Linked DNA regions of Homo sapiens: region 1 is linked to region 2. Evidence: fine-mapped expression QTL. A gene starts in region 2. The other region holds a variant in brackets. All regions are shown on one strand. Distances are from middle to middle.

Region 1 (2,916 bases), 80 kb after region 2:
TTTGTCATCTCTAATCCCAGGCAAAGTGGGCTCCAGACAAAATGAAGTTAGGAGATTTTATGTCTTTGGTGTCCTTCTTTTTGGTCTCCTTATTTTTAAAAAATCTCAATTAAAATTGGTCCTCTTGGTTTCTGTCAAGCCATGTTTAAATTACCAGCTGATAATTATGGTAAAATTTATTGGTGGTGATGGGTGGGGGCAGAAGATTTATTATCTACTGAGAATACTTGCATTTAGTAGAGGATCAAACCTCCTCAAGACCCTTAACAACTATGCTGTAAAAATTACAGCTTCAAAGATGACAGGGTTGATATTCTTGAGCAAGGGTCCCCTAGCCAGCTTCCTACTCAAATTCCTACTCAATCTTCCTTAGCTGGTTTGTAAGACTGCTTGTGGCATTAGTTTTATTCAGGAAACATGGAGCTCTCTGAGAAAAAGGGCTCATGAGATTATTCCAAAGATAAACATATTGAGTAGAAAGAATAGAGTTATTTGATACATAAAGGATAACTGTGTTCAACGTAAGTTTATTGTACAAGTAATATTCACAGAACACACAAAAATCCCTGTCCTCAAGTAGCTCATATTCTAGTAATACAATGAACGGTTGGGCAGGATAATTCTTTGTGGAAAAGCACAAAGAATCTGTTGAATTTTTATTTAAATTTTATCTTTTCTAGAGAAATAGACATGTACACATATAAACATGTACAAGTTGTCATTGCAGCATAATTTCTATGGTAAAAAATTGGAAGCAATCTAAATGTTCACCCAAGAGGGAATAGTAATATAGTGGGTATCATACGAAAATGAAATTAATAGCATTCTTTATTTTTCTGTAAATCAACATAGAGATTATATGTTGAGCTCCAATGTGGACTGATGGTAGAAAACTTAATCTGGTCACTTCCAGATATCAATTCAGGACTTTCTCTTACCTTAGCTGTCATGTATATTCACAGGTGCTGAAGGGCCATCACGTTCGGGAATGGTCTCCACTTGGTGTCTGCCCACGCAGACAGGGGTATCATACCATTCTCAGGAATGGTCACTGAATATATAGGCTTCTCAGAGCCAGAACCACCCAGCCCAGCCCTTCTTGAATTCTTGATTAACAGAAACTGTGAGAGGTAATAAAATAATTACTTTTGTTTTGAACCATTAAAATTTTATGGTAATTTGTTATGCAGTAATAGATCATTGCAACAGCCCTCCTTCCATCAATTTTGTAGCACCTGGTCAAAGTTTTCTCTTCCTCAAGACCTACATGGACGTCTGACTGTTGCTCTATCTCCATTCCCAGGACTGGTATTATCTACTATGCTGGTGGGGGAAGGGATGGAAGTGGGGTAGTTGTTCTGAATCTTCAGCTATTCTCTTTTCAAGCTATTGTTTGTGGCTTTTTTCCCTTTTACTCAGCTCTGCCCAAATTTTACTTCTGAGTCTTAAAACTCAAAACAAAACCGAAAACCCCATATTTGTAATCAAAAATTTTAAAAAAGGTTTTCAAGACTATGGTTTTTGTCATGATTTTTAAAAGTTTGCTTAGAAACGTAAGAACTAGACTTGCTGTTTGGTTCATTTGAGTGTGCTAG[C/T]TCTCCTCCAAGGTGATGAATGCCGCTAACTGGAGTCAAGGGCCAGGAAATAAATGTGTGTATGGGGAAGAAACCTTAATATCTTAATACTTATTAAAAAACAAAACTACGGTTTTCAACTATGAGGACAACACTAGTTTGTGAAACAGTCAAGGGATTTACTTTATCTGTATAGTTTAAATTATTTTAAATTATTTTTTTAGAGTGTGTGAATATTAATTTTGTAATTAAAATTTTTAAAATTATAATAAATTTAGCTTTTTTTTTTTTTTTTTTGGAGACAGAGTCTTGCTCTGTTTCTCACACTGGAGTGCAGTGGCACAATGTCGGCTCACTGCAACCTCCGCCTCCTGGGTTCAAGAGATTCTCCTGCCTCAGCCTCCGTGAGTAGCTGGGACTACAGGCACATGCCACATGCCAAGCTAATTTTTGTATTTTTAGTAGAGACGGGGTTTCACCATATTGACCAGGCTGGTCTTGAACTCCTGACCTCAAGTGATTTGCCCACCTCAGCCTCCCAGAGTGTTGGGATTACAGGTGTGAGCCACCACACCCGGTTAATAAAATGTTTTAAGAGAACTAAACAATTATTCTGCCATCAGCATTAATAAATGTACTTACATACTCAAAAACATTCAGATATAATTTGTGGAGAAATACAACATAAATTAAAATTCAAATCAATTTTTGAAAAAATTTTAACTCTTCTACTTGTAAGTTTTTCAAATAATAATATAAGAAAAAAGTTACTCATATGTCTCAAATGTCATGTCCCTTATATATTGTTAAAGTTTGTAAATATAATTTATGTTGCATAACAAGAATAGTCATTTTTCTCATGAAATGTGATGTAGACACTAACCTGGATCTTTCAGAATTATTGTAATTGCTCATAAAATGGACCATATCATTTATTCATTAACTAAGTCAATATATATTCAATATGTAGCTACTATGTGCCAGGAAGATAAGTTAGGCATGTTTTAGAATGGAGATGATCCTAGCCTTCTGGAATTTACGGTCTAGTGGAAGAGACAGTAATTACTTAAAATTACACAAATAAACATATAATTACAAATTTAATAAGTTCTCTAGAGCTGTGGTTTTTACTCCCAAGCAGGAGTAATTTTGCCCCCTCCCCCTCAGAAGACTTTTGGCAATGTCTGGCAACATTTTTGGTTGTCATAAATTAACCACTAAAGATAAAGGGCACATTTGTTTTGCCCTGTTTTCTTTGCTTGCCAACATACACAGAAGTAAAGACTTCAAGTAGGGAACACTCTGCATTCGCTTCTGTAATGAGAAGGTCAGAATCGGGATA
Region 2 (2,916 bases):
GCCTCTCAGCACTCATGCTGCGCGCTCCCCTGCGCCTCTAGGATCGTATCCCTATTTGCCCCAAGGTCATAGCTCCTAACCCAGCTTGCCAGCCCCAGGCCGGGGACACCAGAGACTGAGCCCTTCGCGCTGGAGACCCCGGCGCGGGTGGGGCGGGAGGGCTCCGGGGCCAAGAGACAGGTCACAATGGGGACAGGGGACGAAAGGCGCCGGGGGTCCGGGTCCCGAGCAGTCCCCGCCGCCGCCAGACTCCGCAGCCGGGAGGGGGATGGGGTGCGCGTAGAGGCTCCGCGGCCCGGGTTGGACGGAGGAGCCCAGGAGCCACCGCAGCCGCCGCACGCCCAGAGCTCCGAGCTTCGCTGCCAGCCCAGGACACCGGGGCCCTGCCGTGGGCCGAGGGGAGCCGGGCGGCGGGAGAGGAGCCCCGGAGCCCCGGAGCCCCGGAGCCCCGCCGGGCGCCAGCCGAGAGGGCGTTTTCCCCGCCCCCGGAGACTCGCCCGCCCGGCCCGCCCCGCCCCGAGCGCGGGGAGTTCACCTCCGCCCGTCACCACCTCCCCTTGTCGCCTAGGTCCACCCGAGCCCCCTCCCCCGGGCCGCCCCCGAGCACGAAGTTGGCGGGAGCCTATAAAAGCTGGTGCCGGCGCGACCCGCGGACACACAGTGCAGGCGCCCAAGCCGCCGCCGCCAGATCGGTGCCGATTCCTGCCCTGCCCCGACCGCCAGCGCGACCATGTCCCATCACTGGGGGTACGGCAAACACAACGGTGAGTGCCGGCGACGGCCAGCGCGGGGGCGCCCCGATCCCCGATCCCCGATCCCCGATCCCCGAGCCCGGATGCCGGCCCGGGGCCCGCAGCGCCCGCACATGCTGTTTACCGCGGCCGCGGGGAGTGCTGGAGGCTCAGGTGCGCCCCGGGCGCTCGCTCCGCTCGCGGCTCCGCGGCGCCGGGGATGTCCCCCTTGCCCCAGCTGCGAGGCCACTGTGGAGGAATCCCCGCGTCCGCCGGAGGCGCGTAGGGCCCGAGGGAGGGGAGGCGCAGCCCTGGCCGCGGGACCCGAGGACAGTCCCTCCCGGGTCCCGACCTGGGGATCATTTTAACCGGACCTAGGAGGAGGCGGGAAAGGGTTGTAACGGAAAATTCTAGTTGTTGATCGCAGAGAAATTAAGAGACTCCCCTCCCCCCTCCCCCACCTTCCACCCCCACCCCACCCCTCCAGCTTCAGCACCACCTGTGGCTAAGGCGCTCAGCACGAACTGTCCCGGGGCATTTTCCAGTGCTGGTTTGAATCCATGGCTCTGATTTCCGAGTTTTCCCTTCATCTCTCGACTTCTAATGTTAGGGGGTCGGACATCAGGAATCGGGTTTTATCTTGGCCTCAGATCTGGTTCTTCGGAGCCAGCGGAGCAGAGGAGCATGCGTCTGGCGCACCTAGCGCATCTTTGGAGGGTGTGGGGCTTCCCAGGTAGTGGGGAACCCTGACGGTTAAAGGTGGGGTGGGCCCGGGCCTGGGCAGTGAGGAAAGGATCCAGACCTCCTTGAATGTCTTAAGTGAGCTTGCATATCCCAAAATCGCAACCACAAGCCCTGACATTAGTGTCTGCCCGATTTCAGTTGCTGAATTTCAGTAAAACGACCTTAAAATAGCTAATATTTATATAGCACTCAGTGATCTAAGAGCTTTACATATATCGATTCTAATTCTTACAGCGACATCTATGAGGTAGATTTCTAATTATCCCATATTACAAATGTGGAAACTGAGGCACAGATTACGTGTTTTCCCAAAATTTAGCCCATTGTTAAGTGATGCTTCTAAAATTGGAACTGAGCAGATTGGCTCCGGAATGATTGCTCTTCTCTAGGGGTCTGGGTGTACCTTTCCCCACAATGGGGGATTCACATGTCTTCTTTCCCCCAGGACCTGAGCACTGGCATAAGGACTTCCCCATTGCCAAGGGAGAGCGCCAGTCCCCTGTTGACATCGACACTCATACAGCCAAGTATGACCCTTCCCTGAAGCCCCTGTCTGTTTCCTATGATCAAGCAACTTCCCTGAGGATCCTCAACAATGGTCATGCTTTCAACGTGGAGTTTGATGACTCTCAGGACAAAGCAGGTCAGTGTTTAGAAAATAACTTGTGTCTTTTAGCCAGTAGCTGTTTTCCGAGCTTAATGGAAGGAGCCAGGAACAGTGGCAGGAACCCTCTTAATAATACAGTTTGTCTCAGGACTCAAGGATGCCACCCTGATCATTTTCATTAGGTCTCAGATTCTGAGAAGTAGGCTAATTAGTTTGAAGTGTCCCGGGGCCGTTTCTTCCCTGTAAAACCCTTGGCTTCTATGAAGGCCATTGAATAACTGCGATATGCCTGTGAAAAATCACAAAAGGTGCAAAGTCCCCTCGCAATAAAGATCAGTCACGATGAGATTTGCACCAATTGAACTTTTAAGATTGTAAAATATTTTGTCTTGCAGAGCTGATGCATATCCATTAAAAAGTATATCTTAGTGAGCCTTATCTTCAAGTTAGCAGCGAGAAGAGTAACAAAAACGTGCCAATTTAAAATACTGAAATTCTGGGAAAATGTTTTACTTATGAGTATTTCTTAGTATTGGGCTAGTGTGATAAAGATGGCAGCATGTTTTGATATCTACTCAGAAATTCATTTCACAAACGAAGATGTTTTAGAGTTGGTGAACATACCTGGCCCATTACTGACAAAACCAATTACCGTATTTATTGGTAATAGAGCTGTTTACAGGATGCTCACTGTAAAAAAAAAAAAAAAAAGAAAGAGAAAGAAGAAAAAAAATCCTGCTTTTTTTTTTTTATCTCTCTCTCTTTTGAAACAAGAGAACAATCCCATTCACACATAGTAGCTGCCTTCTTTGCTAAGCAGTTAATTTAATTGCC

The links.
Region 1: its variant is fine-mapped to the expression of CA3-AS1 in whole blood (TOPMed, PIP 0.95).

Annotation. Positions count from the first base shown.
Region 1 is chr8:85,543,382-85,546,297 of GRCh38, forward strand. No RefSeq gene overlaps it. Among named protein-coding and RNA genes, the nearest start is that of CA3-AS1, 80 kb to the left of the region's middle. The variant C/T (reference allele first, on the strand shown) is at 1,596.
Region 2 is chr8:85,463,352-85,466,267 of GRCh38, forward strand. It overlaps CA3-AS1 (CA3 antisense RNA 1), which reads right to left and starts at 1,564. Exons shown (of 3, transcript NR_121630.1): 1 at 1,231-1,564. It overlaps CA2 (carbonic anhydrase 2), which reads left to right and starts at 656. Exons shown (of 7, transcript NM_000067.3): 1 at 656-764; 2 at 1,921-2,118. The coding sequence starts at 731. RefSeq lists silencers at 1-151, 222-541, 652-1,121 and an enhancer at 765-1,264.